2 separate regions of the Homo sapiens genome follow, and region 1 is linked to region 2. Evidence: fine-mapped expression QTL. A gene starts in region 2. The other region holds a variant in brackets. All regions are shown on one strand. Distances are between the middles of the regions.

Region 1 (2,890 bases), 29 kb before region 2:
CCGGATGACAGGGCAGAGAGTGAAGGGGAGCAAAGCAGTGTGCGCTCAAGGCAGGTGCATTTGTTTCTTTATTTAAAAAAATCATCTGGGGGCATGGTCTGAGGAGGACACCCCTCCCATGGCTTTGGGGAGGACGCAGGTTCCAGGAGTCACAGGGCAGAAACACGCGGGGTGGGTGGGGGCGTGGCCGGAGTGGGGAGGGGCTGTGCCCCCAGCACCTGGGGGTGGCTCCCACGGCACCAGGTGGGCTAGGGCAACAGTATGTACAGGCGAGCAGTGCTCCTGGACCCGGTCGGGGCCGGCTGGGGCCCCATTCTGCGGCAGGGGAGCTCTGGGGCACAGGGTCTGAGTCCCATCTTGGGCTGCAGGGACCGCGAGGGCCGTCCAGGGAGGCTGGACAGCGGGGGCCTTTATCTGGGCCCATCAGGTGGATGAGAACGGACACTGCAAACCGCTCACCACCTGGGCCAGGGCTAGGCCTATCCGGCAGGGGCCGTCCCCACACTGAATCCTGCGTGCGCAGAACTCAAGCCGGCATCCAGGCAGTGGGAACGCCCCGCAGGCTGGGCTTGGGTGGCCTCGGGCACGTGACAGGTGGGGCCCGTGTCCTGATAAACGGACAGGAACAAAAGGAACGCAAGGTCTGGGACCCACGGCTCTGGGAGCAGCGCCACCCAGGCTGGCTCCTAGCAGAGAAATGGGAATCGCAAATGCATTGCAATGTGCAGTGAAGAGACGCGAGGGACGCCCGCGGCGCACCGCCGGCAGACGACGTGGGCAGGCGCCCTGAGCTGCGGGTCCGTGGGCCCTGGCCCAGGCCGGCACAGCCCTGTCCCTAGTCCTGAGGGATTGTCTCCACAGGGCCTGGCCACTGGCCTGGCCACCTCCCCGGCTGCCCTGATCCAGCAGCCACACTCGTGGTGAACACAGGGCAACCCCGTCCTGATGCTGAGAAAGGTGGCATGGAGTGGACAGACGGCCTGGGGGACACTGGGCCTGGCACCGCGTGGTGGGGGGGCCCCAGCAGCAGATGATGGCCTGGGGCTGCGGCTATCCCC[A/G]CGGAGGGAGGGCGGTGTCGGTGTCGGGCAGCCTAGGTGTAGAAGATGACCTCGGGGATCTGGCCGTCCTCCACGGATGTGCCATTGTTGTTCCCGGCCGCGTAGCAAAAGGTGAAGCAGGTCTTGGCGCCCGTGGTGGGCGACTCGTGTGTCACCTTGCGCAGGCCTTTGGTGCCGTAGTGGGAGTCTGGGCCCTGTAGGGAATAGGGGTACAGTGAGGTCAAGGACCACCAGGCTGGGATGCCCCAGGTGTGGACAGGGCAAGGCCCCGACTGGGCCAGGGTGGCTGCCTCTGGAGAGTGTGTGCTGTGCCCCGGTGGCTTCAGGATGGGCCAGAGACTCCCACGGAGGGACCCCTGTCCCCGGCGGCGCACCTTGAGCGTGGCACAGGCCGTGTAGTTGACGTTGGGCAGCACCTCCACCGGCTCCTTGAACATGACGCGGAAGGTGCTGGCTGAGCCGTCGCAGCTGAAGCCCGTGTCGTTCTGGCCCAAGACGGTGTTGCTATCGGTGTGAATAATCTGCGGGGAGGTGGGAAGTGGGAGGCTCAGGCCTGGGGAGGGCCAACGGGGACCCCTCGAGGCCCAGCCCACCTGCCCAGGGTGGGGGCAGCACAGGGACCAGGGCCGGGGGTTCAGCCAGGGTTCCATGGAGGTGGAGAGAGGACATGGGCCTGAGTGGGGCCTGGGGATGAGGCTTGGGGCTGGTACCTGGATGTTCACTTGGTAGTCGGTGGGCCCGTGGATGGATCCATACAGCCCAAATCCCACCACGAAGATGCGCTTGTTGACTGAGAACCTGCCGTGGCAGATGACAGGCAGCAGCGTGGATACCCAGGGATAGCCTAAGGTGAGCTGGGGCGAGCCCACCCCCATGCCCGGTCCCCTCCATCGTCCCTGAGTCCTCCACCCCCATGCCCGGCGGCCCCCCCGCCGTCTTCATCATCCCTGAGTTCTCCACCCCCATGCCCGGCCCCCCATCTCCGTCATCCCCGAGTCCTCCACCCCCATGTCCGGACCCCCCCGCCTGCACCCCAAGCCCCACCTGATGCGGTCACTGGTCCCGCTGTAGCCCCAGCGACTCTCCACCTGCTGGAAGCGGTTGATGCTGCACTCCTTCCCACGCAGGCAGCAGCGGGGCCGGTCAATGAACTCCACTCGTGGCTTGGGGTTGACGGTGAAGTGCAGGAAGAGGCTGACCACCTCGCGGTCCACCAGGATGCCCGACTGTGCGGGACCTGCAGCACAGGGAGGGTGTGGGGGAGGGCCGGGCTGCACCCCAGGATCCCGAGTGCCTGGGAGGACACGCTCCTTCCCCCTAAGATGTCTGCGTCGGACTTTCAAGGTGCAGGGACCTGGGCAGCCCCTCCCCGGGGGACTAGCCACCAGCCATGGCCCCTGCTGCCTGGGCTTTTAGGGAGAGGTCCCAGGGCACAGACCAGAGGCCGACAGATACGCTCACTCAGGGGCGATGCCTCAGGGTCTGACAGATGCACTCACTCAGGGGTGATGTCTCAGGGTCTGGCCCCACTGTAGGGACCACCCGTCACTTCACTGTGGGTGGGGGCGGGGGGCTCCACTGCCTGTTCTCTCAGGGCCATTGGCTGGGAGGGGTCACTGTGGCTCCCTGCTAGGCCTGTACCCCCCAGGCTGCAGCCCTGGCTTCTAGAAGCAGTCTGGGGGTTCCTCTCCACGGTGGGCCCTAGGCAGACACCTTCTCAAGCGCTTACACCCCCAGGGGTGATGGCTAGCGGACCCCAGGCAGACTCCAAGAGCCAGGCTCTTAATCCCGGTGCAGAGATGTCACAGGCAGAGGGACTGTGCATGGGATGT
Region 2 (2,890 bases):
GGTTACGGACTGAGGTGGTGAGGACTGGGGACGGGGGGTCTCAGGTGAGAGCGGAGAAGTCTCTCCATCCTGGGATGCAGGGGTGACACACTTGAGTGTAGTGGGGTCCCAGGGGGCCCCGGGAGTAGAGAGTGGAAGGGCAGTGGGCAGGGGTGAAGGACCTGGGGAAGGAGGGGTCCTGGAGAGTCCCTGGGTACAGGGACGGAGGGGTCACCAGTAGGGGTCCCAGGGGGAGAGGGGCGGCAGGCAAGGGTGCAGGGCCTGGGGATGGAGGGGTCCTGAGGATCCCCGGGTATAGGGATGGAGGGGTGTGGCATGTGGGGTCATGGGTCCTAGAAACAGTGGGTTGGGGTCCTGGGAATGGAGGAGCAGATAGGGGTACACGTCCCAGGGTTGGAGGGTCACAGGAGTCCCAGGGGTGGTGGGTGGGGGTGCAGGGCCAGGGCATGGAGGGGACCCAGGGATGCAGGCCAGGTGGGGTCCAGGGATGGAGGGGCCTGGGGTGTAGGCAGGGGTTCCAGCCGGAGGTGGAGGGGCCCAGGGATCTGGGGGCAGAGGTGTCTGGGGACCTGGGGTGCAGGGAGGGGTGAGGTCCAGGGATGGAGCGTCCTGGGGATGGAAGAATGGAGGGTCCTAGGGTGCAGGCGGGGGGTGGAGGGCCCTGAGGATGGGGTATTCAGGGTTCTGGGGTGCGGGCTGGGTGGGGTTTGAGGATGGAGGGGCCCAGGGGCTCCAAGTGCAGGCCGAGTTGGAGGGTCCCAGGAACGGAGGGTACCGGAGTGCAGGCTGGGTGGGTCCAGGGACGGAGGAGAGCAGGGGTCCCAGGGGTACAGGGCCTGGGATCCCGGGGAACAGGCTGGGGGCGCAAGCCAGAGGTGGAGGATCCAGGGGGGCCTGGGGATGGAGGGGTGCAGAGGCCCAGAGTGCAGGCCTGGTGGGGTCTGGGGACAGAGAGGTGCAGAGGCAGGGACAGAGGGGTGCAGAGCCCAGGGAACTGGGTGGAGTCTAGGGATGGAAGGGTGCAGGCCCCGGGGTGCAGGCCGGGTCGGTTTCAGGACCGGAGGGGTGCAGGGGTCCCAGGGACAGAGGGGTGCAGGGCCTCAGGTGCAGGCCCCGGGGTGCAGGCCGAGTTGGGTTCGGAGCCTGAGGATGCAGGGGTGCAGGGGTCCCGGGGACAGAGGGGTGCAGGGCTCGGGGATGGAGGGGTGCGGGGGTCTCGGGGACAGAGGGGTGCAGGGCCTCAGGTGCAGGGCCCGGGCAGCAGGCTGGGTGGGTCGGGGCCAGGGCTGGCGGGGTCGGGGCGCCCACCTGTGCGCGGGGATGCGCTGCGAGCTGAGCCCCTTGCCCACCAGGAAGTGCACGTCGCACAGCACCTCGTTGTTGAAGAGGAAGGCGAAGCGCTCCTGCACGGTGGGCTTGCTGGCCTGCCAGTTGTACGCGGCCTCGCGCTGCAGCGCCGCCGCCCCCGGGCCCGCCGCCTCCTCCGCCCGCTCCGCGCCCGCGGCCTGCGCGTCTGTCCCGGGGCCCGGCGGGGCGGGCGGCGTCGGCCCAGGGGCGGCGGCGGCGGCGGCGGCGGCGGCGGCGGCGGCGGCCGCGTTGCCGGGGGCCGGGGTGGCGGCGGCGTTGGCGCTGGGCCCGGGACTGCCCCCCGTGCCCGGGCCGACCCCGACCCCCGGCGGGCACGACGCACGCCCGCCGCTCCCACCCGCCGCCATTTTGTGGCTGCGGCGTGGGCGGGGGAGGGGAGGAGGGAAGGAGGGAGGGGAGGAGGGAAGGAGGGAGGGGAAAGGAGGAGAGTAGGGGGAGGAGGGGGAGGAGGGAGGGGAGGGGAAAAGAGGAGGGAGGGGAAAGGAGGGGAGGAGGGAGGGGAGGGGAAGCGGGAAGGAGGGAGGGGAGGAGAGGGAGGGGAAAGGAGGGGGAAGGAGGGAGGGGAGGAGAGGGAGGGGAAAGGAGGGGGAAGGAGGGAGGGGAGGAGAGGGAGGGGAAAGGAGGGGGAAGGAGGGAGGGGAGGAGAGGGAGGGGAAAGGAGGGGGAAGGAGGGAGGGGAGGAGAGGGAGGGGAAAGGAGGGGAGGTGGGAGGGGAGGAGGGAGGGGAGAAGGGAGGTGAATGGGGGAGGCTGTTGCAGGGGAGGGGACGGGGAGGAGAGGGAAGAGTAGGAGGGGCCTGTAGAGGGGAGGAGCTGGTGGAAGACCTCTTGCTCCACTCCCTAAGCATCCTGACCTGAAGCCCAGACTCCAGACCGAGGTCCAGAATTTGGGGTCCAGGCACCAGGCCCCAGACTCCAGACCGGGAATCCTAAACCCTGGAGCACAGACCTCAGTCCGGGATCCCAGGCCTCAGACCTTGAATCCTAGATCCCAGACTCTGAACCCCAGACTTCAGACTCCGGATTCCAGATCCCATACCTCAGACCCGGAACCCCCAACCCAAAGACCAAGCGCAAACTCCAGACCCCAGACCCCGGACCCAGGTGGCGGGCCTGCTCCGTGGCGCAGGCTCCGCTGTACAGAGACATAGCCTGAGGCCGGGAAGCTGCGGATGAGCGAGCAGGATGCAGGCCACGTGCACTGACACTCAGCAGACGCCCAGCACCCTCTCCAGGCCAGGTGTGGGGGGTGGTCAGTGTGGACGGAGCTGGGACTCCCCCAAAACGCTTACTACATACATAATGTCAAGGTAGACAAATGCCACAAAGATTGAGGAACCAGGTCGGGCGCAGTGGCTCACGCCTGTAATCCCAGCACTTCAGGAGGCCAAGGCGGGGGGTGCATCACCTAAGGTCAAGAGTTGGAGACCAGCCTGGGCAACATGGCAAAACCCTGTCTCTACAAAAAATACAAAAATTAGCCAGGCGCGGTGGCTCACGTCTGTAATCCCAGCACTTTGGGA

Evidence for each region.
Region 1: its variant is fine-mapped to the expression of BTBD2 in thyroid (GTEx, PIP 0.92).

Annotation. Positions count from the first base shown.
Region 1 is chr19:1,985,398-1,988,287 of GRCh38, forward strand. It overlaps BTBD2 (BTB domain containing 2), which reads right to left. Exons shown (of 9, transcript NM_017797.4): 6 at 2,103-2,295; 7 at 1,769-1,856; 8 at 1,433-1,579; 9 at 51-1,252. The coding sequence ends at 1,091. LOC124904610 (a long non-coding RNA gene) reads left to right here and starts at 2,295. Exons shown (of 2, transcript XR_007067086.1): 1 at 2,295-2,890. The variant A/G (reference allele first, on the strand shown) is at 1,059.
Region 2 is chr19:2,013,989-2,016,878 of GRCh38, forward strand. BTBD2 (BTB domain containing 2) reads right to left here and starts at 1,726. Exons shown (of 9, transcript NM_017797.4): 1 at 1,309-1,726. The coding sequence starts at 1,715. It overlaps LOC107985278 (a long non-coding RNA gene), which reads right to left. Exons shown (of 4, transcript XR_001753845.2): 4 at 2,357-2,890. RefSeq lists silencers at 1,323-1,372, 1,383-1,532.